Linked DNA regions of Homo sapiens: region 1 is linked to region 2. Evidence: fine-mapped expression QTL. A gene starts in region 2. The other region holds a variant in brackets. All regions are shown on one strand. Distances are between the middles of the regions. Region 1 overlaps LIPA (lipase A, lysosomal acid type). Region 2 holds the start of LIPA (lipase A, lysosomal acid type).

The links. PIP is the estimated chance that this variant, and not a neighbour inherited with it, causes the effect.
Region 1: its variant is fine-mapped to the expression of LIPA in skeletal muscle (GTEx, PIP 0.91).

The regions. Positions count from the first base shown.
Region 1 is chr10:89,216,609-89,233,146 of GRCh38, reverse strand. LIPA (lipase A, lysosomal acid type) reads left to right here. Exons shown (of 10, transcript NM_000235.4): 4 at 4,749-4,947; 5 at 6,143-6,252; 6 at 7,919-8,055; 7 at 9,317-9,463; 8 at 10,565-10,636. Among named protein-coding and RNA genes, the nearest start is that of CH25H, 18 kb to the right of the region's middle. The variant TCCGCGAGAGGGCG/G (reference allele first, on the strand shown) is at 7,824.
Region 2 is chr10:89,246,442-89,259,294 of GRCh38, reverse strand. It overlaps LIPA (lipase A, lysosomal acid type), which reads left to right and starts at 7,520. Exons shown (of 10, transcript NM_000235.4): 1 at 7,520-7,558; 2 at 11,646-11,757. The coding sequence starts at 11,647. RefSeq lists enhancers at 7,434-7,493, 10,162-10,251.

The DNA.
Region 1 (16,538 bases), 28 kb after region 2:
CCTAACAAACAAAAAAGGACAATTAGAAAAATAGTGTCTTTGACTTATTCTCTGGAAGCCTCCTTCAAAGGATAAAGTAATTCCCTGAGAAAAGCGTTGTGCAGGTGTGAATTCGGTCTGGGTGGAACAAGGGTATTTACCGATGTTCTTAGAAGCTGCACAGCCACCTTAGGCGTGGTCTCCTGGGTAGCACATGCTCCAGCTGTCCACAGGCCATTCCTTTCTTCACACTCACCTCCCAGGAAAACTGCAGCAGCTCCTCATTGCCCTTGGGAATCCAGGAGTTATTTATTGGGGATGTTTAAAGACTTTCCTGATGTATCTTCAACTTGTCAGCTTCCACATTTCCCCATTCAAAGCTCTAGAGGTTACAGAGGGAAGTACAGAGACTTTAGGGAAATTTTAAACATTCTCCATCGAGAGAAGGTGGGGAGCTGAGTCCTGGTCCCATGTGCTGGCCAACATCTCCCCTTCCAGCCTCTGTCCTGGCCTGGCTGCCACATATCACCCTCCTTCTCCTCTCTCAATTATCCTTGCCCCAGGGCCCTCTTTGGTTTCAAACCATTCCTGCCTTTCTCTGGACACTCTCCCCTGAGGAGTAGACTAGGCAGTCCCATGTTTTCCGTGTTAACTACAGAGGCACAGATTGGAACAAGTGCCAAGGAATTAGGCCACCTACCGAGCCTTCCTCTTGCCTCTCTCTGACTCTCCATCCTGAGGGAAGACGATTGCAGTCGTTTTTGTTGGAAATGACCTGACCTGTGGGAGCAGCCCGTTCCTGGCCTTTCAAAGTCAAGTCACCTTACTCATGGCCTAGCTCCTGATCACTCCTGGTGGGTGAAAAGTGCCTCAACATACCTAAAGAGCTGTGACATGAGCAGGAAAGCCCCTCTTTCTAGAAAGTGTTGGGCACCATCAGTACAGCAGAGCCACTGCATCGTACAGCGCCCGGTCACCATTCTCACGTACAGTTACCATGAGATGATGATGGTGCCTGTAGTTACACATTTTTCAACTATAATTTAATGATAAATTAATTTTGGTAATTATAATTGTCACTTACACTGCAGTTTATAATTTTGGATTTTTAATGATCAATTTTCATATTTTCCCAGCTGGATTATCATCCTCTTCATTGAAGCCAAGAAGCCTGTGCATAAGACGCTGTATCTACCACAATGCCTTCCACTTACATTTTTCGTAGTAAATTTAGTCTTGTTAATATTGCATTAAAATGAACCTTTGAAGGCAAAGATGAGCACATAAAGCAGCCCTAATCTTGTCCAGTTTGCTTTCTATTTTCTCCCCATGGGTAGAAGTTCACCTGCATGGCCCTGGCATTTCTATTTTGTGATTAGAAAATCACACCAGCCATACATGATGTTTCACTTCTGTAATCCCCGCACTTTGAGAGGCCAAGGCGAGAGAATCACTTGAGGCCAGGAGTTTGAGACCAGCCTGGGCAACATAGTAAGACCTCATCTCTATGAAAAGTTTTTTAAAAAATTGGCTGGATGTTGTGGTACACACCTGTAATCCCAGTTCTTCAGGGGCCTGAGGTGGGAGGATCACTTGAGTCCAGGAGTTTGAGGCTGCAGTGAGCAGTCATGCCACTGCACTCCAGTCTAGGTGATAGAATGAGACCTTTTCTCTCTTAAAAAAAAAAAAGTTATGGGAATCATTTTATACTCTTGGCCTGGGGTCCTGCTATTTTAACAACACGAGGGTATAGCACCCCCAGGTTGTACAACTCCAGGGAGTACCATGTATATTTTCATGTATGTGAGCAGTGCCTTCCGGAGTAGTCTACGGAAGCTACCTTGCAGCAGAACTGTCATTTAAAAACAATTTGCTAGTTATCAAATCTATATTAGGACATTAGCAGAAATGAACATTTGTCAATTCACTTATAGTCTTATCATCTGGACAAATCATTCTTCTCATTTTTCCTTGGTATTTTACACTCCTCTTTGGTGTACATTAATTTTGCACAGCTGTAATTTAGAGTAGTCTATAATTTTGTATTTTGCTTTTTTTTCCTTTGCAAGGTATAAGCTTTTCTATGCTGTCACTGTCCTTGTCATGGTTGATGGATAATTATTATACCAAGTGGATTTCAATGAATTATTTGACCACTTGACAATTAGCTTATTTCCAGTTTTTCACTGTTATAAAGAATGAGCAGAGGGCAAAGGAAGCTCTCATTTGTTCACTGTGACCCGTGTGTCAGTCACTATACTGGATACTTACCTCACTTATTCCTCTTAACAATTATTTTTGGAACTGAGACGCAGACTGGTTAAGCAACTTAATAGTATGAGTTGATATATAGTGAACTCTTACTGTGTGTCAGACTCTTTGCTACCTACTTTTCATATAATATCTCATATCTCACTGTGTCCTATAAAATGTGTATTATCATTTCTACTCTTCAGGGAATTATATTAATTTTAGGAGATGTTTCCCCAAGGTGTCATGTTAGAACTTGGAGAGGACAGAGTTGAGCCTAGGTTTGTTTGAGCTGTCTAAAACTCATGATCGGGCTGGGCGTGGTGGCTCACACCTGTAAACCCCGCACTTTGGGAAGCCGAGGTGGGTGGATCGCTTGAGTCCAGGAGTTTGAGACCAGCCTGGGAACATGGTGAAACACTGTCTCTACAAAAAACACAAAAATTAGCTGGGTGTGTTGGTGCACGCCTGAAATCCCAACTACTCAGGAGGTTGAGATGGAAGGATCACTTGAGCCCAGAAGGTGGAGGTTGCTGTGAGCAGAGATCACGCCACTGCACTCCATCCTGGGTCACAGAGCAACATCCTATCTCAATCAATCAATCAATCAAATAAGTGGATAAAACTCATGGTCAGTATAATGTCAGCTCCATGGAGGTACTTTTTTTCCTCTTGTTTTTGTTCTCTGCTGTGTTCTCAGTGCTGAGAAGAAGGCCTGGCACATAGTTGGTACTCAATAAAGGCTTGTTTCATGAATAACTGAATGGTCTCAGCGTTAGGTAAGCAGCTTGAGGTCAGGTTTCTTTGGCTCCCACATCTTTGTTTTTTCTGCTATATCACTGTCTCGGGTACAGGTGAGTAGAAAATAAATTCTCACAGGCAGACACAGACACATATATTTATGAATTTGTGTGTGTGAGCCTTTTTATCTATTTAACTTTTATTCAGCTTTAAAAATTTTTATTAAATTTTATTTTTTAAAGCAGTTTTAAGTTCATAGCAAAATTGAGTGGAAGGTACAGAGATTTCCCATACACCCTCTGCCCCCACACTCCCCTGTTATGAACATCCCTCACAGAGTGGAATTGTAATTGTTACAGCTGATGAACCTACATTCACACAAAGTCCGTAGTTTACATTAGGGTTCCCTTTTTTTTTTTTTTTTGAGACTGAGTCTCCCTCTGTCCCCTAGGCTGGAGTGCAGCAGTGCAATCTTGGCTCACTGCAACCTCTGCCTCCCGGGTTCAAGCAATTCTCCTGCCTCAGCTTCCTGAATAGCTGGGATTACAGGTGTGGGGCACCACACCCAGCTACCTTTTTTGTATTTTTAGTAGAGACAGGGTTTCGCCATGTTGGCCAGGCTAGTCTCGAACTACTGACCTCAAGTGATCCACTCGCCTCAGCCTCCCAAAGTGCTGGGATTGCAGGCATGAACCACCACACCCGGCCACTACAGTTCACTCTTGATGTTGTATATTCTATAGTTTTGGACAAATGTATGATGGCATGTGTCTACCTCTATAGTATCATGCAGAGTAGTCTTACTGCCCTGAAAAATCCTCTTTACTCTGTCTATGAATTCCTTCCTCCCTCCTAACCCCTGGCAACCAGGATCTTTTTTACTCTCTCTATAGTTTTGTCTTTTCCAGCATGTCATATAGAATGCAGCCTTTACAGATCTTGGTAATATGTATTTAAGGTTCCTCTACATCTTTTTGTGGCTTGATAGCTCATTTCCTTTTAGGGCTGAGTAATACTCCATTGTCTGGATGTAGCACAGTTTAGTTATGCATTCATTTACTGGAGCACATCTTGGTTGCTTCTAAATTTTGGCAATTATGAGTAAAACTACTATAGACATCTGTATGCAGGTTTTTGTGTAGATGTAAGTTTTCAACTCCTTTGGGTAAAATACCAAGGAATGTGATTGCTGGATTATATGGTAAGAGTATGTTTAGTTTTGTAAGAAACTGCCAAACTTTTCCAGTGTGGTGCTACCAGTTTGCATTTCCACCAGCAATGAATGAGAGTTCCTGTTCCTCCACATCCTCTTCAGCAGTTGGTGTTTTCAGCGTTTTTGGATGTTGCTCATTCTGATACGTGTATAGTGATGTCTCATTATGTGTGATCTTTTTCTTTCCTTTTGTTTATTTTGTTAGGAATTATTGTGAGAAATGCAATTACGAAAGCAAATTGTAAAAACATTTTATAAGAAAAAAATTGTAAAAACATTTTATAATTTCTTAAAAATATATTGATTTTTGTTTTTGCTGCTTACATAAGTGTGTCTTGTTAGTGGACATGCAAAAAATGGTCCAGTTTCACTGCTACCTTGCCAGTGCTGTTTTAAAAAAATTCTTTACTAACATTATATGTGAGTACATCACTATGTCAATCTTTCAATTTATTTCTAGTTCATTATTTGCTTATGGATCTTTTACGAATGTTCTATTTAGCAAGATATCATATTTGTTTTGAAGCTTGGTGCTACTGCCTCCTAAACAATGAATGTTTTTCAGGTCCCAAACCAGTTGTCTTCCTGCAACATGGCTTGCTGGCAGATTCTAGTAACTGGGTCACAAACCTTGCCAACAGCAGCCTGGGCTTCATTCTTGCTGATGCTGGTTTTGACGTGTGGATGGGCAACAGCAGAGGAAATACCTGGTCTCGGAAACATAAGACACTCTCAGTTTCTCAGGATGAATTCTGGGCTTTCAGGTATATATGAATTGATAATGGCATGGATGTATTTCCTTAGTACTCTTAAAGCAGACAACAGGCTTCCAGCAGAAGAGGTAGATAGGTGGTAACTCTGAAGTTGTATGAGAGGGGAAGTTAGTGTCTTTTGAAAGGTTTTAAATGTTGCTAGGAATTTAATGACTAGCAGTAAGGTAAATTATAAGTAAATGATTACATTAAGATTTACATTTAGTTAGGAATTCTTAAGTTACTTCGGCATTTCTGGTGGTGTGGGTGCTGCTGGGTAAACGTTATTCCATAACTTTCCTCCTTTCTCCATAAATATGTAATCCAGATGTTCACTTTTCTTCTTTCCAGAAATTATCCTTTCCTCCCTCTTCCTTCTGGCTCCACCAGTTAATTGCTGTATGACATTGGACATCTTACATAAGCCTCCTGTGTCTCGGTTTCCTTATTTGTAAAATGGAGCGTAATAAACACCTACCTCATAAGGTCACTGGGGGCTTAAAGGAGAGGGTGCAGAGAAGGAACCTCCACAGAACCTGGCACCTTGTATGAACTGGCTAGGGGTTGGCTCTTCTCCTGCCAGTGGCAACATGCGCATGCATATACCCATACGCACACTTGGGTTTTGGTCTATGTTTTGGTACCAGGTATTAGAGAAAGTCAGCAGCACTATAGCAGCCTCCGGGCTTGCTTCCCATTTTTAAAACCAGAGGCACCTCTAAGGACATGAAACACAAGAATGAGAGCTTTTAACAAAAGGCATATACAAGAATTGGTTTATTGTCACGCTATTTGTAACAACGGAAAACAGGAAACTACCCAAATGCATGTCAGCAGTGAATGGATAAAGTGTTGTATATTTATATAGTAGAATAAGAATGAACAACTTACAATTATATGCAGCAAAAAATGGATTAAGCCAGATACAGGAGAATACACATTGTATAATTCTACTTACAGAAATATTTAAAAACAGGCGAAACTAATTTCTGGTGTGAAAAATGAGGACAATAGTTACTTTTGGGAGACACAACTGGAAGAGAGCCCAAGGGGGCTTCTGCAGTCCTGCTGGTGTTGTTTCCTGGACTCACTGCTGGTTTTCCCAGCTGTGTTTAGTTTGTGATAACTCATCAAACTGCATACTCAGTATGTGTGTGCTCTATTTTATGTACTATTTCAATGAAAGAGTTCCTTTCTTGGATTACAGTTATGATGAGATGGCAAAATATGACCTACCAGCTTCCATTAACTTCATTCTGAATAAAACTGGCCAAGAACAAGTGTATTATGTGGGTCATTCTCAAGGCACCACTATAGGTATGTATGTAAATAAGATCAGAAGTTGATATAAATTCTTCATTACAGAGTTTGTACTTTTCTTAAAAGTGAAATATAAAAAGATGTTAGTTCAAATTCCATTTATTTTTAAATGCCAAACAGAAATAATGAATAAGATAAGGAATGTTGGTAACATTTAGTCTTCTATGAAAATTCATGTATATGGTTGAAATTGAAGAAATTAATGTAAGCCACAATATATTACATGTTTTCCTAGATGAAGCAAGATAGGGATGTGAGAGAGTAGAAAACAAGTAGTTTCTAAGTTCAGAGACTTACATAAAGAAAACAAGAAAATATACTGCCTTCTGAAGTTAAGTGGAATATAACTAACTACAGGTACATTTGGTTTACAAAAAATTTTGAAAAGTTATATGCATTTTAATTTATGCTGATTATATAAGTAATGCATGTTCACTGTAGAAAAACAGAAGAACAGAAGATTTAGCAAAATTAAAGAAAATAAAAATTGCCCATAATTCTAGTCAGCAAGAGTTTTTGTAATTAGGGACTAGGAACCTGTCCTATAATTTATTTAATTCTCCCTTTTAATGTTTACTATGACTAACACCTTAGTGTTCCCATCACATGCTTTCCTTACAATATATTCCTAGAAGGAGCCTTACTATATGAAAGGTATGAATGTTTTGAAGGGTCTCAAAACATGTGGTTATATTGCCAGGAAAAAAATGGAGTTAGGCATTTTTCTTTATTTATATTTCTTCTTTCATGACTTGCCTGCTTGGGACCTTTGCCCCACTGCTTCCTAAAGTGACATTCTGGGGCCAGGTGGCAAGACGTCAGAGAGGGTTGTATTAATTCGTTTTCATGCCACTACTAAAGACATACCCGAGACTGGGCAATTTATAAAGAAAAAGAGGTTTAATGGACTCACAGTTTAATGGATTGTGAGCTAGGGAGGCCTTACAATAATGACGGAAGAGCAAGGAACATCTTACATGGTGGCAGACAAGAGAGAGTGAGAGCCAAGTGAGGGAGTTTCCCCTTATAAAACCATCAAATCTCAAGAGACTTACTCACTACCACAAGAACAGTATGGGGGGAACCGCCTCCGTGATTCAATTATCTCCCACCAGGTCCCTCCCACAACACATGGGAATTATGGGAACTACAATTAAAGATGAGATTTGGGTGGGAACACACCCAAACCATATCAAGGGTTAAAATATATTTTAAAGCTAGGGGATTCTAAATGTGTGAGTTCCTTTGAAATCATTGGTGGTTTATTTCAACGTGGTGTCTGTAAATTGTTCTTTGGGGGAGGGGCATGGGGGAGATAAAGGTGATGGGGTGAGGCTCTTGGAAATAGTCTGTTATTTACATTGTAAAAGGAACTGGGAAGATTTTCTGATTCTCCCAGACTGGATTTCTTCCAGTGCTTATCTAGGTTGAGATTTGGAGCAAGCATTAACAAATGCTTGATTTACTAGTTTAACCAAATTCAGTGTTAGGGCACACGGAAGTTCAGAGTGCCCCATGTCAAGTGTTTTGGCTCCTGCTGGTGGTATTGTTTGCGTGGGTCTCAGGCC[TCCGCGAGAGGGCG/G]TCGCGAGTGACGGCCTTTGTGTTTTCTGAGAAGGAAATCCCAGATGATGGAATTCCTGTTTTCTGTCCTTTGTTCTCACAGGTTTTATAGCATTTTCACAGATCCCTGAGCTGGCTAAAAGGATTAAAATGTTTTTTGCCCTGGGTCCTGTGGCTTCCGTCGCCTTCTGTACTAGCCCTATGGCCAAATTAGGACGATTACCAGATCATCTCATTAAGGTACTTGGACCCCTCCCATCCCTCTCCTCTCCCCGCAGATTTCCTCCTGAGATCTGAAGAAATGGCAAGGGGAGGGATAATCTGTGCCTTCCTCCCCTGCGTTTTGATATCAGTGGAGCAGTGGGCTTTTCTTTTTCCGTTTACCCCTCCTTCCAGACCCAGGGGTGGCCGGGGACGCCTGTCGTTTCCTGCACACTGGTGCCACGTGTACTCATGGTTAGCATGTGTCAGTACAGCTCTGCCCACCTCACAGGGAGAGCAAGGAGAGTCTGGGAGAAAATAATTTAAGCATTTGTGGAGTTGCCCTTTATCCCATGAGGTGAGCCTGTGCACAGAGGATGTAGGAGATGGGAGATAGGAAATGTTCCCAAAAGCCCATCCCTAGCTACACTGAGGGTGACCTAACAACGCTATCATTATTGTATTTTATAATATGGCTCCTAAACACAGCCAGTAGCTTCATCAGGGCTCTGCCCTAAAGCTGTGGCACCCGAACCTCTGTTCAGGGAGGAAATAGATTTCATGAAAAAGAGTTTTAAGCTAGGTAAGACCAGATGTTCTATTATGCATGCATTATATGTCTTTTATGAAATATATGTTCACACACACACATATGAAATCCTGTATAGAAATATATACATGAAATGAGGTATAACGTCTCTCATGGGCCATTTAGAAGACTTAAATAGGAAAGATGGAATCTCCTAGGCTTAGGCAGTCCTTCTGCCTTGGCCTCTCAAAGTGCTGGGATTACAGGCATGAGCTACCATGCCTGGCCAATAAAAAAAATTTTAAAAAACAAAATAAAAAAGCAAGCGATGGGCTGGATTTGGCCTGCTGGCCAGTAGCATTGAATTAGATGGGCACACCTCTGGCAGACATTACTGATCAATCACAGCCTTGACTGTTTCTTAGAAGTAACCACCGATCCATCAGAGTCAGATGAAAATTACTTGGGGATGGCCCTGGGAGGGGTGATCATTAAGGCCCTTTCCCACTGTAGAAGTCCGCTGAAAACTTATTTGATTTTCTGCCTCCTTCTCTTCATTTGGAGAATTTAAATACACCTCTGTAGTGTGTGATTTTTGCTTTGGTAAACTTGTGCAAAAGCATCCTGATTTGATGTCCACTGGTTGCCATTCTCTCCTGAGGCCATTCGTGGAGACATTGGGTACTTGTCTCTGCTTCTGAGGTGAGTCACGGAGACTTATGCACCAGAGTGAAATGCTGAGATGTTCTTGGGTTTCTTTTTATTTTGTAGGACTTATTTGGAGACAAAGAATTTCTTCCCCAGAGTGCGTTTTTGAAGTGGCTGGGTACCCACGTTTGCACTCATGTCATACTGAAGGAGCTCTGTGGAAATCTCTGTTTTCTTCTGTGTGGATTTAATGAGAGAAATTTAAATATGGTATGCATGTTTATAGTAAGATTTGATTTTTTTTTTTATCTGTGAATGTGCTTATTTGTGTTGAATGATATGGGAGAGGTGGGAATGACCTCATCAGAACTCTAAAGAGTCTTTCATTTGAGAGGCACAAGCATGAACTTTGGCCAATGCCTAGAATACGGTACCACCTGCTGCCATCCTCAGGCTGACTGTGGTCACCTTCTTATGTTGTACCTAGATGGAGATTATTGAATGAGGAGATCTGTCACAAATTAAGCTGTAATATTTATAATTACTCTAGTGATTTGTTTCTTTTAGAAATCATTATAAGTATAAACATAAAGATGGGAACAATAGACAGTGGGGACTCCAAAAGGAAGGAGGGAGAGGGACAAGGGCTGAAGCCTGTTGAGTACTATAGCCAATATTGAGTACTGTGGTTATGGGATCAATAGAAGCCCGCATCTCAGCATCATGCAATCCACCCTTGTAACAAACCTGCACATGGACCCCCCGAATCTAAAATACACAAATTTTCAAAAATTACTATAAGTATTTAAATTTGGAACGGCCATTTACATACACATAAGTGTATGCTTGCAGTGTGTGTGTATTTATAAAAGTACATTTTATAAAATGTAAACCCATTTTATTTTATAAAATATAAACCCTTGGCCAATACTATGCCCGTGTTTCTAAATATGTTTGTTAGTTTGTCATGTGGCATTTTGAAAAAAAGGGTTAAAATCCTGGAATAAAGGCCCTAAGGAATTTCAGTGCCATTTTTCTTTTGTCTGATAATTAAAGCAAGGTGTGATTGTTATATGAAATTTGGGAAATTCAGGAAAGCATGAAGAACAAAATGAAAATGCCCTGTAAACGAAACCCACACAGTCCCGTGCTTACCATGTTGTTGCACCTCCTTCATATGGACTTTGTATGTGGTTGTATGTATTTTTATAGGGCAGATTTTTAGTCAAATAATTTTTTTCTACCTCTCATCTCACATACTTGAGATTATGGCTCTAGTTTTTAGTGCTTTGAAGGGCAAAATACAATGTTTATTATCAATGCCACCTTAATGCTGTTTTCATTCTTCATTTCAATGTATTTATTTTGCAGTCTAGAGTGGATGTATATACAACACATTCTCCTGCTGGAACTTCTGTGCAAAACATGTTACACTGGAGCCAGGTAGGCATTCCAGGAGTGCATTTGGGGTTCATGTAAAATCAACATCAGAAAGGTCTGGGCATGCAAACCCTTTCCAAATAGAAAGACAACCTGCTTACAAATCTGATCTGGTTTTCTTCCCCAGAGTCCTGGGTTTTTGTCATCGTGCTTGTGTTGCTTTTGATACCTGTGGTGGGGCACACTGTGTTATACGTGGGTTCACAAACAGCTACTGGGGTTGACATTTTTCTTTTCCCTCCTCTCCCTTCCTCAAGTCTCAGGTTAATATATTCTCTCCCTTTCCTTCTCCCCCAGCTTTCTTTTCCTCCTCCTGTTTCCTCCCCTCCATCTGCTTCTCATTGAGTCCTAGATTTTTTTTATTTCTGTGTTGCTTCATAAAGAGTGATTTTAAGTCCGTTTTGGAGATAGAAACCGCTGTTTCAACACTAACCCCTGATCACAATATGCTTGGAATAGCAGTGAATAAACTGGAGCTAAACCAATGATAGATGTGAATGGGGGCCCCTGACTTTTGAAATACAGTTTTGATTATTTTATCATGTAAATAAGTCATGTTCATTCTAGAAAATTTAGAAACTACATCTAGAAAAAAATTATCTTAAAATGAAAATAAAATCATTCTATAACCCTAGACAGAGAGGAAATGCATATCCATAGATATTGAATGTCTCTGCATTCTATTCTATACCTCTTTTCAAAAAGATGCTGTTAAAGACATGGATAGAAATAGTAGATGTAGAAATAGATTGATTTTTCTCCTGCTTACTGTTTTACAGCTTGCTTTTCTTTTTTCACCTGACAATATGTCAGGGACTTCTTTCTACCTCAGGACATAATTTTGTGCCATTTATTTTTCAGCTAACTTCATTTTTAATATGAAACAACTCACCATTTAAGCCCTAAACCAAGACACTGTAGGTGTCTTGAATAGTAATTTCCAAACACCTGGCAGTCACTGCTTGCATCAGAATCACCAAATTGCTTTAAAAAGTACACTATTTAATAAATCATTGCATTAAAAAAGTAATGAGAGTTGGAATTATAGTGGAATTCTTGGATTGGCTACCATCCAGGCTTATAAAACAAATACTCCTGTGTCCCAATCATTTGGACTAGAGAATCTGTACTTTTATTTTTTCGTTTTATTTTATTTTTTTGAGATGGACTCTCACTCTGTTGCCAGGCTGGAGTGTAGTGGTGCGATCTTGGCTCACTGCAACCTCCGCCTCCCAGCTTCATGTGATTCTCCTGCCTCAGCCTCCCGAGTCGTTTTATTATTTTAAAAAAAAATTTTTTATTGAGGTATAAGTGACATAGAATATTTAAAGTATACAATTTGATATATTTCAGTGTTTGTATACACCTGTGAAACCATCACCATAATCGACACAGCAAATATATCATCATCCTAAAAGGTCCCTGCTGCCCCTTTGTGATACCTCCCCCCATCCCTCCCCTCAATCCCACTGATCTGCTTCCTGTCATTGTAGCTTAGTTTGCATTTTCTAGAGCTTGCATGAGAACAGTCATGCAGTTTATACTTGTTTTTGTCTGGCTTCTTCCACTCAGAATACTTGTTTTGAAATTTTCCTATGTTGTGTATGTCAGTAGTTCATTCCTTTTTATTTCTGAGGATCTGCATTTTTAAAAAATCTGCCTGGTAGATTCTTTTGCTCCACCAGGTTTGGGAGCAGACCTGTTCGGGACATCCTGATACTTTCATCTCCTTCTTCAGTTGCCCCAGGAACTCTAACAGTGCTATAGTTCTCCTTTCCCTGGGGCTCGTCTCTAAGGAACTAGGAAGAGCCTGGCCTGAGGCTCCTGGTCCTTTATAGTAACTAGAAGGCTGAGAGTTAAATGTCAGTTCCTCAGGGGCAGAGTTTGTTGTGGCCTAAAAGAGGGGCATCTGGAATGCAAATAGTTCATGACGTGCTGAACAGCACATGCTTACCACTTAAGGAATGCCCCCAAACCTTCAAAAATCCTCAAATTCACAAAGATTGAGGATTTTCGTTCTTGGTTCAGGTCTCTGCTTTTCTCCTTGGTCACATTTATGCTTATAGTCACTTGTTTTCTTCATATACCCTGTCACTAGAATTCCCCTACATTTTTGAGGATGCCTAGGACCTCTTACCTAATGGACATTTTCCTAAAAGGCCCAATGTCTGTCACCTCATCAGTTATTGCACCCCCAGAGATGATGGAGGGTGACTGAGCTGGCTGGAGGCAGATCCTGAGCTTTCCCACCAGCTTAGTGACTGCCAGCAGCCCACACACAGTACACGCCAGGCCTCAGCAAAGTACAAATGGCCACCAGACCTGGGATGTCAGAGGCCCTTGGGAATGTTGAAACCAAGGCTGTCCTAGGCCAACTCTATTTTATATTACAGACCTGTGTTGCTTCACCCTTCTGTGTCTTGGGCCTCCACTGGGCATGGGGTTTGCAGTAGAGACATTGGATCGGCTATCATCTAGGCTACTGGTCTTGTTCCAGCCCTCTTATCCAGCAGCTTGCCAGGGTCAAAGGCTGCAGGGTGAGGGCCAGAGCACTGCTCTGTGCCCCATTTGTGACCTGGTGACTTTAGATTCTAACTACCCTGGAATATACCTCCAGAATATTTGCAAAGCCCAGATTTGCTGTACAAGGCAGCCTGGGCCTTTGCTCTTCTACCCGCTGTACCATCTTTTGTCAGTAAAATGGTTGGTTGCTTTGTGCAGCCATTGTATCGGATCTTCCCTTTGGCTTTCCCTCCTCTGGGCTGTTGGCCAGGGGCTGCCACTGGTGCAGGCTGCAGGCTCCAAGAGGCAGTGCAGGAAAAGGCTTCTGTGGAAGCTGGGCAGGCCTGGATGCCGGGCAGGCTGGGGCTAGAATTCAGGTGTGGCATTAGAGGGCTCTTATGGTATGAGTTTGGGGTTGACCTTAAAGGCCATTTTGTTTACAGTCCATTCAGAAGTTTACTTTTTGTTTAAATAATTAGGATTAACTTGTTAATAAATTCCATACCTTGTTCTTTAGCGGGATTTTAAATATAGCATACTCATCTTTCCATTCTCCTTATAAACCTGATGAATTTCGGAGCTCCCCAGAGCCAAGACTTGATATTACTTCTCACTTTCTCACTGGCCCTGCCCAGAGCCCAGGTACTCTCACCTGTTTGAAGAAGGCCATCCCAGTGTAGTTTTCCAGTGTTGTTCTGACCTACCTAAGGTGCTATTAAAAATACTGGTTCTTGGGCCTGTCTGAGACCTGTGGAGACTCTGAATTCCTAGGGCTGTGACCCTGGGATCTATGTTTGAGTTAAGTGCCTTAGATGATTACGATGTGCTCTTTTTTTTTTCTTTAAAGGAAAAAACATACTTTTGGTAGGCTTTTAAAGAACACTGTAAAAAGGATATTCAGTATAATTTTTGTTAAACATGTAATATGTTTTATGAAATTTTAGAAAATACATGAGTGAAAGAAAAATGACTTGTATGTCTAGCACCCAGCAATAGCCACTATTAATATTTTGGTATAATCTTACAGTTTTGTAATATAATCATTTCCATTACAAAAGTCAGATCATACTACATCTGCTTTTATGTAAATTTTCATTTAAAGAAATGCCATTATATTTGTTAGATACAAGTTAAGCTGTTGTATTAGAGACCCCAAAATACAGCTGCTAAATAAAGAGTTTATTTCTTTCTCATAATAAAGTTCAGAGAGAGGTGGCCCAGACTGATGATAGAGGGGGTTTTGGCTGTGTTCCATGAGGCCATGCAGGGACCCAGTTCCCTCCATACTATAGCTCTGCCATCCTCGGGGTGTTGTCCTCTTCTGCCTGGTTGCAGCCCGGTCACCTCCATGTCTCTTCCAACTCACAGGAAGGCAGGGGAGAGGGAGCTCAGGGCAAGTGACTTTGTGCGAAGGAGATAGCTTAGAAGTGAGCGGTATGGCCATAGCCTGGCTGCTCGCAGGAGGATGAGGATGTGGTTTCTATCTTGGCAGCCATGTACTTAGGGAAAGCTTTAGGGATTCTGTTACTGAAAGGAAGAAGGCAAGAATGGGAATGGGTGGCAGTCTCTGCCATAATTAAAAATGCCTTTCCGGGTCAGTAACTAAAGTTTTAAAATATTTGTCATAAAGGGCAGTTTCTGTTGCTTGAATTTTATTATCATTTTGTTTTTTGCAGTGATAGTTGTTTTGCAGTCATAAATCATCTGTCCTTATATGTTAGAGTGTTTTCTTAGGATGATACATTTATAGCAGTAGACTTAGTAAGGGAGAGGGTAGGCATAGCTTTAAGACTTCTAATACATATTGTACTTTAGAAAAGTTGAACCCGTTTACATTTTTATTACCATTCAAGACCTAAATATAATTTTTAAATGTCATTTTAAAACGGTTTATCCTAATACTATAGGCATTTCCTCCTGATCATTATCTACATATACTCTGTGATATGATTATCACAGAAGTATAACCTTAGTGTATATTTGGTTTCATTTTTTTCCACTTAGTATTATTTATGAGATTATCTGTAAGCCATTTTCTGTTTGTATTTTATTTATATTTATGACAGTGGCATACCCCTTGTGTATATTTATGTAACATATTTACCCAAATATCTATTATTTGAAATGGTAAGTTTTGGCCACAAGGTGGCGCCCGGTAAAAAGAAATGCCCAGACATTCTCTTCAAAACTGCTTTTGGTTTATGTGAAGTCTGTTCTTATCAACTGCATACAATTCTACTGTTTGATGTAATAAAACACAGAGCGAGATGATATACTACAAGGGATTGTTACTTATTAAAATTGGGCTTTAGCTTATTTCCAGGTTTTTGTTACTGGAAATCATCTTAATACTTTTCTTTTGAAATATCCTTTCAAGTGGATAGCTTGAAGTCCTAAGTGACTTAGCACAAAGTCAAATTTAGAACTTCAGTCTGAGCTATAGGCAAGTTTCACCTTTGTATTCTGTGCTCACGCTGGTGCTTCATATGAATGCTGAAGGACATGTGACAAAGTGATGAACTGCTGTCTGTGTTCAGTGGCAGAATAGTTTGCATCAATATATTTTCACTGACAAAGATGGGGAACAGATGTACCAACAGGTGCTGTGAATCCAAATTTTGTTTTGCTTGTTAAATATGCCACAGGTATTTAATATCAGTCATTTGCAACGGCAAAAACAGATGCCAAATATTTCTCCTGTAACAATCCCCTATAGTATATCATCTCACTCTGTCTTTTATTACATCAAACAGTAGAATTGTATGCAGTTGATTAGAACAGACTTCACATAAATCAAAAGCAGTTTTGACAAAGAATGTCTGAGCATTTCTTTTTACCAGGCGCCACCTTGTGGCCAAAACTTACCATTTCAAATTCATTTGGCTTGCCAATTTTGTGTTTAATTTTTGACATACATTTAATTTGAGAGTGTAGAGGAAATATGGATTTGCACTATTTTGAATTTTAAAAATAAGTGACATTTTGCTAATATTTTATATTATACTATTTTAAATATGAATAAATGTAAATTTCAATACAATTTCAATTTCATGGCTCTAGTATCCCTAACTAGTTAGAATTGTGCTGGCATGCAGTACTACTTGGTGATTATACTGATACCAGTACTCAAGAAAAAGTGTTTAATCAATACCATCATTAAAATTTGACTAATATAACTAGACAAGTAGAATGGGTAAATAGAAAATATACAGTCATCCCTCAAGTATCTTTGGGGACTGGCTGCAGACATCATCCCCAAACCAAAATTCACAGATACTCAAGTCCCTTATATAAAATGATGTAGTATTTGCATATAGCCTATGCATATCCTTTCATATGCTTTAAATCATCTCTAGATTACTTATGATGCTTAATACAATGTAAACGCTATGTAAGTAGGTGT
Region 2 (12,853 bases):
TTTAGTGAAATGTCTGTCCAAATATTTTGCTCATTTTTGATCGGGTTTTTAGTTTTTAAGGAGCAGACCAAATCATTTTATAAAGTTAAAAAAACTTACTGAGATACAATCTGCATACCATTCAATTCACCATTTAAAGGGAACAATGGCATTCAGTATATTTGCAGAGCTGTGCAACTATCATTGCAATTAATTTTAGAACATTTTCATCATCCTAACTTCCTCTTCTTCCCCATCCTTTAGCCATCAACCCACCATCATCCCTAGGCAACTACTAATCTACTTGCTGTCTGCAGAGATTTGCCTATTCTGGACATTTCATGCAAGTGGAAGGGTCTTTTTTGAGTGGCTTTTTAAATTTGGCATAATGTTTTCAAGATTCATCCATGTTGTAGTTAGTATCAGTGCTTCATTTTTAAATTATAGAAGAATATTCCATTGTATGAACATATCAAATTTTATTTATTCATGTCTTCATCAGTTGATGAACATATGGTTGTTTCCACTTTTTGGCTATATTGAGTGATGCTCTTATGAACATTCATGTACAAGTTTTTATGTAAACATCAGTTCTTATTTCTACTGGGTATATACTTGAAAGTGCAGTTGATGGGTCATATGATAACTCTATGTTTACCTTTTTGAGGAACTTCCAGACAGACTGTTTTCCAAAGTGGCCACACCATTTCACATTTCCAGCAGCAGTGTGCAAGGGTTCACATTTCTCCACATCCTCATCAACACTTGTTATTACCTGTATTTTTTATTATAGCTATCCTAGTGGGTATGAAGTGGTATCTCATCATGGTTATAAAACGTCTTTTTTTTAGAAAAAAAAGTTATTTTACTTTGAAGGGGTCCAATTTGTTGATATTTTTTCTTTTATAGGTTGTGCTTTTTGTGTTGTATTTAAACAATCTTTGACAAAACTCAAATTTCTTAAGATTTTCTCCAATTTTTTTCCAGGAACTCCTATATTTTTAACTTTCAAATGTATGTGTATGGTCCATTTTGAGTTAATTTTTCTATGACTTAAGGGTCTAGGTTCATTGTTTTGCATATAGCTATTCAAGTGTTCTAGCACCATTGTTAAAAAGATTATTCTTTCCCCATTGAATTGTCATGGAACCTTGGTAAAAATCAATTGGGGGTCTACTTCCCAGTATTCAGTATTCTTATTCTTATTCAGTATTCTTATTTTTAAAAGGCAGCCTTAACTTAGGGCTGATCTTGCTCCAATACTGAGACAATAGTCTTATGAATCTTTTATTGAGTGCCTTCTGTGTTACAATGTTTTCCCACTCTGGCTGGTTGTAACTTAAACCATTCCAAGTTTTGTGTGAGCCTTGGGGATCTTACCGTTTGCAGGTGGTTCTTTCCACTAAACTATGGTCTAGCATAGTTTCTTCACATGCAAACTGTTAGTTAAAGACTTGAAGGAACCCATCTGCAGCTCGCCACAGCCTCTCTCTCTCTTCAGCTCTCTCTGCTCCAGCATTCTGCCCTGCAACTCTGCTGCCTTAAGAGAATTCCTACTGCCAGATGAGAATGCTTTTTTAATTCTCATTTTTCTCCTCTATTTAGATAAACTGCTGGATTTTGCTTGGATTTGGCCTCCCTAAACTACAGCCTGGAAAATCTGTCCAGGCAATTATCTGAGGCATTGCAGGGATCATTTCATTTGTTTTTCTTTTCTCAAGGATTGCTCTTTCTTTTGCACTATTTGTTGTCCAATGTCTGAAATTATCGTTTCATACTTTTTCCAACTTAGCTGTTTAAAGTAGGAGAGTAAACCAGGTCATTGTTACTCTATCTTTGCTGGAAGCAGAACTGCTATTAGTATTGTTTCTGTCTTTATTTCACCAGTCTGGCTTATGATATAAAGTGACCATCCCAAACACACATGTTCATATATGCACACACACACACACACCACTACTACCTCCTGTTTTCTATAAAACTTTCTTTTTATAGTTGTGAAAGTTGTCAAAATCAAAATGAAGTCCTTTATATTAAAGTCCTGGCAAATGGACCCATGGAAGGCCATAAAGGGAGTATTCTCACACATATGCCTGAAATTCAGAACTATCACAAAAGACTGCCAAAAATGCAGTCTTGCACAGAAAATACTTCTGCAAGGATGTCTATTCAGCAACTGTCAGTCCTTGGACCAATGCCACCCTTGTTATTGATCCTCGTAGCCAAGGACAATTGATTCAAAACAACTTATTTATTCTTTCTCATTTTGCCTTTAAAAACTTCCCCTTGTCTTAACTTCTTTAAATATGCACATAGTATAATATGGCACACTTATTCACATTGCAAACCTGAATAAATATCATTTTCTTATGTAGAGTCTCCTTTTCTCTCTTTATTAAGTTTAACTTGGAAAAGGTATAGGTCATCCACCAGTCACTGTGGCTCACAATGGCCCAAAGCAGGAAGTAGGAGAAATCTTCCCCTACCTGAGTGAAGGAACCTCGTGGTTATATTTTCATTCATTCACTCACGGATGACAACCTGGATTTAGTTTGCCTGGGTTGCATTTTGGGCTACATCACTTTTTACTTTTGTGAAATTGTGCTAAGCCCTCTACATACAGTGTCTCACTTAATCCTCAAGACTACCTTCATACACCCATTTTACAAGTGAAGACGCTGAGGCTTAGAAAGGGTAACTATATTGCCCAATGTCTGACACACAGAAATGCTGCTCAATCTGTTGCTCGTTTCTCAGTACTCACTTCACTTAAGCTGTCATTGGCACTTGCCTGGGCTGATCATTTCCTCTTTCATGAAATTTCTTTCTTCAGTTCATGTCAAGTACAACACACTCATTTCTCCTCCAACCTCATTGTCTTCTCAGCTTTTATATCTTCTGAATCTCTACGTGTGTTCTTTGCTACTTATGCTTACTTTATAGGGGATCTCCTCCAGCCTCATGTCTTTAAATACTGTTTCTAATCTGATTAGTCACAAATCATATCTCTAGCCTGGAGCTTGAATACATCTATATATCCTAGTCCCTACTCAACATCTCCATGTGGATGTTTTTCCAATCTTCTCCTTTTTGTTCCAAATCCTTTCCCTGTCCTACCTCTGCTCTGCTCTGTCTTGTGGAGGGTGGAGTGGTCTGACCTCTGCAGGCTCTTGTGTCAGCCACCTTTAGCCTGCCTAGGATCCTCAGAAGGGACTTGTGGAAGACTGAAGGAAGAAGGAAGAAAGAAGGGGAGGTCCAGCTATTTCTAGCTCCTCTCTTTCTTGGCCATGAGTAGTGTCTCTGACAGAGACTGTTGCTCAACTTCTGGTCTATGGTATGACACTTCCTTCATCCAATAATGCCCCAGCTCTTTCCACTGTTGCTAATAATTTCTGTGGTGCCACCCAAACCCTGTTTGTCTTCTCAGCAATGTCATTACCTGTGTAACCATGTCCTCTGTTTGCAATGCCTAGAGTGGCTTCTATTTCCTGACATGGCCTGAGTTGACACAGGTCTCTAAAAGGCATCTCAAAACCAACACATCTAGAACAAACTCCTAATTTCCCTCTCAAGTTGTTCTTCCTGGTAGTTTGTCCATTCAAATTCATGGCAACTCCATTAGTGCCATCCTTGATGCTACTGTCCCTCTCATACCTGTATTCAATCCACCAGCAAGTCCTATTGGTTCAACTTTATAAACATACCTAGAGCTGCCTATTTTTCTCCACTTTCACTGCTATCACCATCCTGGTCCAAGTCATTATTAACTCTCACTTGGACTATTGTGGTAGCCTTCTGATATGGTTTGGCTGTGTCCCCACCCAAATCATTATCTTGAATTGTAGTTCCCATAATGCCCACATGTTGTGGGAGGGACCCAGTGGGAGATAATTAAATCATGGGGGGCAGTTTTCCCCATACCTTTCTTGTGGTAGTGACTAGGTCTCATGAGATCTGATGGGTTTATAAGGGGAAACCCCTTTCACTTGGTTCTCATATCCTCTCATGTCTGCTGCCATGTAAGACGTGCCTTTTGCCTTCTGCCATGATTGTGAGGCCTCCCTAGCCACGTGGAACTGTGAGTCAATTAAACCTCTTTCCTTTACAAATTACCTAGTTTTGGGTATGTCTTTATTAGCAGCATAAGAACTGACACAGTAAATTGGTACCAGTAGAATGGGGTGCTATTGTAAAGATACCCAAAAATGTGGAAGTGGCTTTGGAACTGGGTAACAGGCAGAGGTTGGAACAGTTTGGAGGGCTCAGAAGAAGTCAGGAAGACGTGGGAAAGTTTGGAACTTCTTAGAGAACTGTTGAATGGCTTTGACCAAAATGCTGATAATGATATGGACAATGAAATCCAGGCTGAGGTGGTCTCAGATGGAGATGAGAAACTTGTTGTGAACTGTAGTAAAGGTGACTCTTGCTATGTTTTAGCAAAGATACTGGGGGCATTTTGTCCCTGCCCTAGAGATTTGTGAAACTTTGAACTTGAGGGAGATGCTTTAGGGTATCTGGGGGAAGAAATTTCTAAGCAGTAAAACATTGAAATGGTGACTTGGGTGCTGTTAAAAGAATTCAGTTTTAAAAGGGAAACAAAACATAAAAGTTCAGAAAATTTGCAGTCTGACAATACGATAGAAAAGAAAAACCCATTTTCTGAGCAGAAATTCAAGCTGGCTGCAGAAATTTGCATAAGTAATGAGGAGCCAAATGTTAATTACCAAGACAATGGGGAAAATGTCTGACAGGGCATGTCAGAGACCTTTGAGGCAGCCCCTCCCATCACAGGCCCAGAGGCCTAGGAGGAAAAAATACTTTTGTGGGCTGGCTCAGGTCCTCCCTGCTGTGTGCAGCCTAGGGACTTGTGTCCCAGCCTGTGTCCCAGTCACTCTAGCCATGGCAAAAAGGGGTTAAAGTACAGCTCAGGCCATGGCTTCACAGGGTACAGTCCCTAAGCCTTGGCAGTTTCCATGTGGTGTTGAGCCTGTGGGTGCACAGAAGTCAAGAATTGAGGTTTGGGAACCTCCACCTGTATTTCAGAGGATGTGTGGAAAAGCCTGAATGTCCAGGCAGAAGTTTGCTGCAGGGGTGGGGCCCTCAAGGAGAGCCTGGGCTAGGTCAGTGCAGAAGGGAAATGTGGGATTGGAGGCCTCACACAGAGTCCCCAATGGGGCACTGCCTAGTGCAGCTGTGAGAAGAGAGCCACTGTCCTCCAGACCCCAGAATGGTAGATCCACCGATAGCTTGCACTGTGCACCTGGGAAAGCTACAGACACTCAACACCAGCCTGTGAAAGGAGCCAGGAGGAAGGGTCCCCCTGCAAAGCCACAGGGGCAGAGCTGCCCAAGACCATGGGAACCCACCTCCTGCATCAGTGTGACCTGGATGTGAGACATGGAGTCAAAGGAGATCATTTTGGAGCTTTAAGAAATGACTGCCTTGATGGATCTGGACTTGCATGCGGCTTTTAGCTCCTTCATTTTGGCCAGTTTCTCCCATTTGAAACAGGTGTATTTATCCAATGCCTGTACCCCCATTGTATCTAAGAAGCAACTAACTTGCTTTTGATTTTACCAGCTAATAGGTGGAAGGGACTTGCCTTGTCTCAGGTGAGACTTTGGACTATGGACTTTTGAGTTAATGCTGAAATGAGTTAAGACTTTGGGGGACTACTGGGAAGGCATGATTGGTTTTGAAATGTGAGGACATGAGATTTGGGAGTGGCCAAGGGCAGAATGATATGGTTTGGCTGTGTCCCCACCCAAATCTCATCTTGAATTATAGCTCCTGTAATTCCCACATGTTGTGGGAGGGACCCGGTGGGAGATAACTGAATCATGGGGGCAGTCTAGCCCATACTGTTCTTGTGGTGGTAAATAAGTCTCACAAGGTCTGATGGTTTTATAAGAGGAAAATCCTTTTACTTGGTTCTTTCTCTCACATGTGCCGCCATGTAAGACAAGCCTTTTGCCTTCTGCCATGATTGTGAGGCCTCCCCAGTCCTGTGAAACTGTGAGTCAGTTAAACCTTTTTCCTTCATAAATTACCCAGTCTTGGGTATGTCTTTATTAGCAGCATGAGAACAGACTAATACACCTTCTAATTAGTCTCCCTGCTTCTGTAGTTCAGAATGATCTTTCTAAACTAGATTATGCTGCCCTTCTATTGAAAATATTACACTGGCTTCTCATCTTACTCAGAAGACACGGTAAGATCTTGACAAGTGGCTCCCAAGGCACCAGACTTCTAGGACTTCATGTTCTATTACTTTCTACTATGTACATTCTGTTTTAGCCTCAAAGACCTCACCACTCTGGCTAGGACCCACCAGGAATATTCCTACCACAGGGCCTTTGTACCTGCTATTTTCACCCAGAATGTGCTTTCTCCAGTATCTAAGGCTGTTAACTACCTCCTTGCCTGTGCTCAGGTGTCACTTCATAAGAGTCCTTTCCTGATTACCATATACATATCATCCTCCTTATCCCTGTTTTTTTTTTTTTTTGGGGGATGGAGTCTCACTCTGTTGTCCATGCTGGAGTGCAGTGGCATGATCTCCGCTCACTGCAACCTCCACCTACCTGGTTCAAGCCATTTTCCTGCCTCAGCCTCCCAAGGAGCTGGGATTAGAGGCACACACCACCACACCCGCTAATTTTGTATTTTTAGTAGAGATGGGGTTTCACCAAGTTGGCCAGGCTGGTCCTGAACTCCTGTCCTCAGGTGATCCGCCCTCCTCAGCTTCCCAAACTGCTGGGATTACAGGCGTGAGCCACTGTGCCCAGCCCCTTGTTGTTTGTTGTTGTTGTTGTTTGTTTGTTTTTGTTGTTATTTATAGCACTTATCACCACCTCATGTATTATATAGTTATTCATGATGTGTCTCTTCCCATCAGAATATATACAAGAGAACAGGAACCTTGTTTGGTTGGTTTCTATACCTCCACTGTCTTACTAATGCCTGGCATTTAGTAGGTGCTCAATAAAATCTTTGTTTTAGAAAATGATTAATAAATAATATGTACATATTGAATATTGTTTCCTCTTTTAACAAATCTTTAATAATAATAAAAAATTTAAAGCAGCAAGATTGCTTTGCATCAGGCACAATGATAAGCGCTTTAAATGGAGCCCATGATTCACTTTCATTTATAGAGCCCACATGCTCTCTGTCAGGCGCAGAAGGTGCCAGCCCTGCAGGAGCTTCGGGGGCGGAGCAGAAGGCCGCCTAAAACAGCCTTTGCTAAGAGAGCATGCGTAGGCGACGCGCTGGTAGAGCTGTGGACCTGCCAGCCTGCGAGGCGGAGGACGGGCTCCATCTCTTAGAAACGCCTACGGCGCATGCTCTATGGGGTCAACTGGGGGGCTGGCAAGCGGCAGCGCTGGTCTGGGGCGGAGTCTCCGAGGCACTTCCCGGTGGCTGGCTGCTCTGATTGGCTGAACAAATAGTCCGAGGGTGGTGGGCATCCGCCCTCCCGACAAGGCAGACCAGGCCCCCTGCAGGTCCCCTATCCGCACCCCGGCCCCTGAGAGCTGGCACTGCGACTCGAGACAGCGGCCCGGCAGGACAGCTCCAGGTGAGAGTGCCGGCGCCGCGGCGCTGCCAGGTGCGGGTGCGGCGTGGAAGCTGGTGCCTTCAGCAAGGGGAGGGTCGCGCCCCGAGGCTCTGCCGGCCGGCAAGACCCTCTGCGTTTGGACCCAGCGAGTCTTGCCTGGGGTGCCTGCGGGTGCTTTTTCTGCGGGCGTTGGCTCAAGGCATCTGCCAATCAACCAGGGCAACTTCAGAGAGCAACTTCAGAGAGAAGCCCACTCTCTTCCCTGGGCGCTGTCCACTTTCCTGGACAGGCGCGGTCTCCGGTCAGTGAAGCTGCCCAGTGCTCCTGGACCGCGAGGACAGCAGGGATGTCTGATTCCTCTCTCTGCATCCTCGTGCTCTCCCCTTAGCTCCTCCAGGCATCCCATCCTACCTCTCTTGTTAGCCAACGGCGTGGTCGAAAGCAGACTTGGGCATCAATCCTGGTTAAAGTCCCAGCGATACTGCTTTTTAAACAGCTGACACTTTGCTTCCAGTACTTCAGCTGGGTGAACCTCAGATTCCTGAAAAATGGAATTAATGGTACTGCCATAGGGTCGGTGGAGGAGTAATTGACAGTAGATCAGAAGCGCTGCCTGCGGTGGCTGGCGCCTCGCAAGAGCTTAAATGGGAGTCGTAATAATTGTTGTTATTAGAAAGTTAAATAGCATGCTGCGTTGGGGCCTTTTCTTCTGCCACTGAACTGTTGGACTGCTCTTATCTTTTTTCAGAATCTGTACTATGCATCTAATATATACGTGGCACTTTGCTTGGTCCTGGGGGTACAAAGCTGAGTCAGATTGTTACAAAGTCTAAATAACTGAGATAAAGGTGTTAATACAGCCCAGAAAAGCACACTTAATTCAGCCTGGAAGGTTTTTTTTCCCCCCTCCTTCGAGATTTTCAGAGTATCTCCTTCTTAGTAAGAATTGCTTGGCTTAGTATGTTGAGAAAAACATACTAAGTATGTAGTGTTGTGTTGGAAGGAAAACTTAACTGGGTGAGATTTTCAGCTGAGTAGCTTTAGCTGTTACTCTCATGGACCTTCCTCTGGGCGGTTGATACAGGTTCTGTAGGAAAACCGCTGAATGAAAGCAGCTCCTGCAGATGCTATTCTGTTTTCAATTGTGGTAATTCCTTTAATTTTTTCCCTTTCAATTTACTCCTTATTCTCTAGTAATAATGGACTTTTGGGAGGTTGCATTTATGATAAAAAATAGCCTGGGGCTGTACAATCCTTCCTATCATGAAGAAGTACAAAGTTGTAAGTAGAAGCAGTGGCCTTGCTTTGCCAATGCACACTGAAGGGGATAACGTTTGCTCCTGTTCAGAGTTCACGGTCGGGCGCGGTGGCTCACGCCTGTAATCCTAGCACTTTTGGAGGCCGAGGCCGGCGGATCACGAGGTCAGGAGATCGAGACCATCCTGGCTAACACGGTGAAACCCTGTTTCTACTAAAAATACAAAAACAAAATTAGCCAGGCGTGGTGGTGGGCGCCTGTAGTCCCAGCTACTTGGGAGGCTGAGGCGGGAGAATGGCCTGAACCCAGGAGGTGGAGCTTGCAGTGAGCCAAGATCTCGCCACTGTACTCCAGCCTGGGGGACAGAGCAAGACTGTCTCAAAAAAAAAAAAGAAAGAAAAGAAAAGAAAAAGAAAAAGAAAAAAGAAAAAAGAAAAGAATTTCAGAGTTCACTACTTCTTGGAAAAAAATAATCCCAGGAGGAATTCCATCAACAGAAGGGAGTCAGTTCACTTTTGCAATCTCCTGAGAATCAATTTCTTAAGACTTGTGGAATATTCAGTTTAAACACAAAACTAAAAACAAACAGCTGTATTGGAGTATTATTGACATACAATAGCATGGCATATTTCAATTGTACAATTGTATAAGTTTTTGCATGTGTACACACCTGTGAAACCATCAGTACATTCAATATTATGAACCTGTACATCACCTCCAAAATATTATTTGTGCATACCCCTTTGTGATCCTTTCTTACTGCCCCTTCTCTCCAGGAAACCACTGATCTGCTTTCTGTGAATATAGATTAGACTGCATTTTGTGGAGTTTTATATGAATGGGATCAGACAGTACTTTTTTTTTTCCTTATTTTGATCTGGCTTCTTTTGGCATAATTATTTTGAGATTAATCTATATTTTTTTGTGTTCCTTCCCTTTTATAGCTGAGTAGTAGGTATATACCATAATTTATCCAATCATCCATTTAAAGCATTTGGGTTTTTCCAGTTTTTGTCTATTACACCCAAAGCTGTTATAAACATTTATGTACAAGTCTTTGTATGGGCATACATGCCTGCATCTTTTTAAGTGATTCTATTTATTTTTTAAAAATGTAGAAGTTCTGGGATCTAGTCCTAGGTTTTTCTCTGACCACTTGCGTGATCTTAGGAGAGGCATTTAACTTTGCCTTCAGCATCCTCAAGGTCTTTGCTGTGATTTTGAGTCATCACTGCCAGAAACCAAGATGGTCTTTGTTGATTTGATGGTTAGAGAATTTCAGAAGGAGAGAGACGGGTCAAATTTTTCCTTTCTGTTTCTTTTGAAAGCTCTATTTTCTTTCATTTCACTTTTTTCCCATGAATGACAAATTTAAATGCTGACGTATAATTTGGGGCAAGAACAGAAGTGGTTAGATAAGTAGGAGGAAGAGCTAATAGTGGTTAGATAAGTAGGAGGAAGAGCTAATAGTGGCTGAACTTAAACATGTCTAAATCATAGGTGGAAGGCAAGAGGTGGGAAATAAGCAAGCTCAGAAATTTTGTGTCTCTTTCTTTTTCTCAAACTATCCTCTTCTAAGTCTTGCCTTTTGTTATTTCTCCATGACCAATTTGTTTTTAACTTTGGGGTTAGGAGGTGAATGGGTATGCTGGACTCCAAAGGTCATATATCAACTGGAGGTGGTGGGTGGGAGGTTTCTTAGTTAAAAGTAATTCCTTTGGGCCGGGCGCGGTGGCTCACGCCTGTCATCCCAGCACTTTGGGAGGCCGAGGCGTGATCACGAGGTTAGGAGATCGAGACCATCCTGGCTAACACAGTGAAACCCCGTCTCTACTAAAAAAAAAAAAATACAAAAAAATTTGCCGGGCGTGGTGGCGGGCGCCTGTAGTCCCAGCTACCTGGGAGTCTGAGGCAGGAGAATGGCCTGAACCTGGGAGGCGGAGCTTGCAGTGAGCCAAGATTGCGCCACTGCACTCCAGCCTGGGCGACAGAGCGAGACTCAGCCTCAAAATAAATAAATAAATAAATAAATAAATAAATAAATAAATAAATAAATATAAAATAATAATAATAATAATTCCTTTGGGAGGCGGAGGCGGGCAGGTCACGAAGTCATCTGAGACCAGCCTTGCCAATATAGTGAAACCCTGTCTCTACTAAAAATACAAAAATTAGCCGGGCATGGTGGCCTGCACCTGTAGTCCCAGCTACTCTGGAGGCTGAGGCAGGAGAACCGCTTGAACCTGGGAGGCGGAGGTTGTGGTGAGCCGAGATTGTGCCACTGCACTCCAGCCTGGGCAACAGAGCGAGACTCCGAAAAAAAAAAAAAATTCCTGGGCAGGCGCGGTGGCTCACGCCTGTAATCCCAGCACTTTGAGAGGCCGAGGTGGGCGAATCACGAAGCCAGGAGTTCGAGACCAGCCTAGCCAATATGGTGAAAGCCCATCGCTACAAAAATACAAAAATTAGCCAGGCGTGGTGGTGCGTGCCTGTTGTCCCAGCTACTTGGGAGGCTGAGGCAGAAGAATTGCTTGAACCAGGAGGCAGAGGTTGCAGTGAGCTGAGATTGCACCACTGCACTCCAGCCTGGGTGACAGAGCAAGACTCCATCTCAACATAAATAAATAAATAAATAAATAAATAAATAAATAAAATAAAAATAAATAAATAAAATTTAAAAATTCCTTATTCTCCTTTCAGATATGGCTGGAGTCATTTGTTTCATATTTTCCTTTCACCTTTTACTTGCCCTAAATCTGGTTCAGAACTTTTTGTGGGAGCATTAAGTTACCAGAATATTTTTGTGTAGTAAAATTCAAGCAAATAATAATAGACTGTTTTATTATACAGAATGAAAATGCGGTTCTTGGGGTTGGTGGTCTGTTTGGTTCTCTGGACCCTGCATTCTGAGGGGTCTGGAGGGAAACTGACAGCTGTGGATCCTGAAACAAACATGAATGTGGTAAGTTTCTCAAAGTTATGTACTTTTAAAATGCATCTATTTCCCCGATCCAGTTATGTGAGCTACATGAAGCCATACCCATACATTCATCTCTTTATAACTCCTTTGCTTTTCAATTTCTCTGAATTTTTTTTTTTTTTTTTTTTTTTTTTTTTTTTGAGGCAGAGTCTTACTCTGTCACCTGCCCGCCCAGGCTGGAGTGCAGTGGTGTGATCTCGGCTCATTGCGACCTCCGCCTCAGGGGCTCAAGTGATTCTCGAGCCTCAGCCTCCCAAGTAGCTGGGACTACAGGCATGCACCACCATGCCTGGCTAATTTTTTTTGTATTTAGTAGATACAGGGTTTCACCATGTTGCCCAGGGTGGTCTTGAACTCCTGAGCTCAGGTGATCTGTCCACCTCAGCCTCCCAAAGTCCTGGGATTACAGGCGTGAGCCACCGTGCCCAGCCCAATTTCTCTGAATCTTAGATTCAATTTGCTAGGCTTTTCTCACCAGGTAATATGTAGCCAACAAACCTCAGTTTAATGTTATATATACTTCTTAATAAGATAAATTATGATTTTTTATTAATTCATTTCATTTTTAAGTCTCACTAAGTTTGTTTAAACTATAAAAAAGTATTTAAACTTTGCAAGAACATTACCGCTATTGAGAGCTGGTTTTAGAATACATTGAACAAAGGTTGTGATTAAGAATGTCCAGGGAACATATTTCTATACAGAAGTCAAAGTATCTGAGCTAAATTTTGTTAGAAAAAATATGCAAAAATAACCACTCGACTAATTAAAACATCTGAAAGTTATTAATCGTAAGTAAACAATAAAATCTGGAAATACCTCATTTAGGCACAAAATATCAGTAAAGTACAAATTATTAAAGAAAACAGCAACTTTAAAATAGATGTTGCAGTGACCCAGCTGAAGAATCAGGCAAGCTTAGGGACTCGCAGAGAAATTCACAGTGAGCCAGGAGAGTATGACCTGATAACAGGGTCTTAAAGTTAAGTTTTACTTCTTAGCTCAAAGCTTTTCTTTTGCCTCCCAATTTTTCCAACTTTTAAAATAATTTTTTAAATAAGAATGATAAAATTAAATT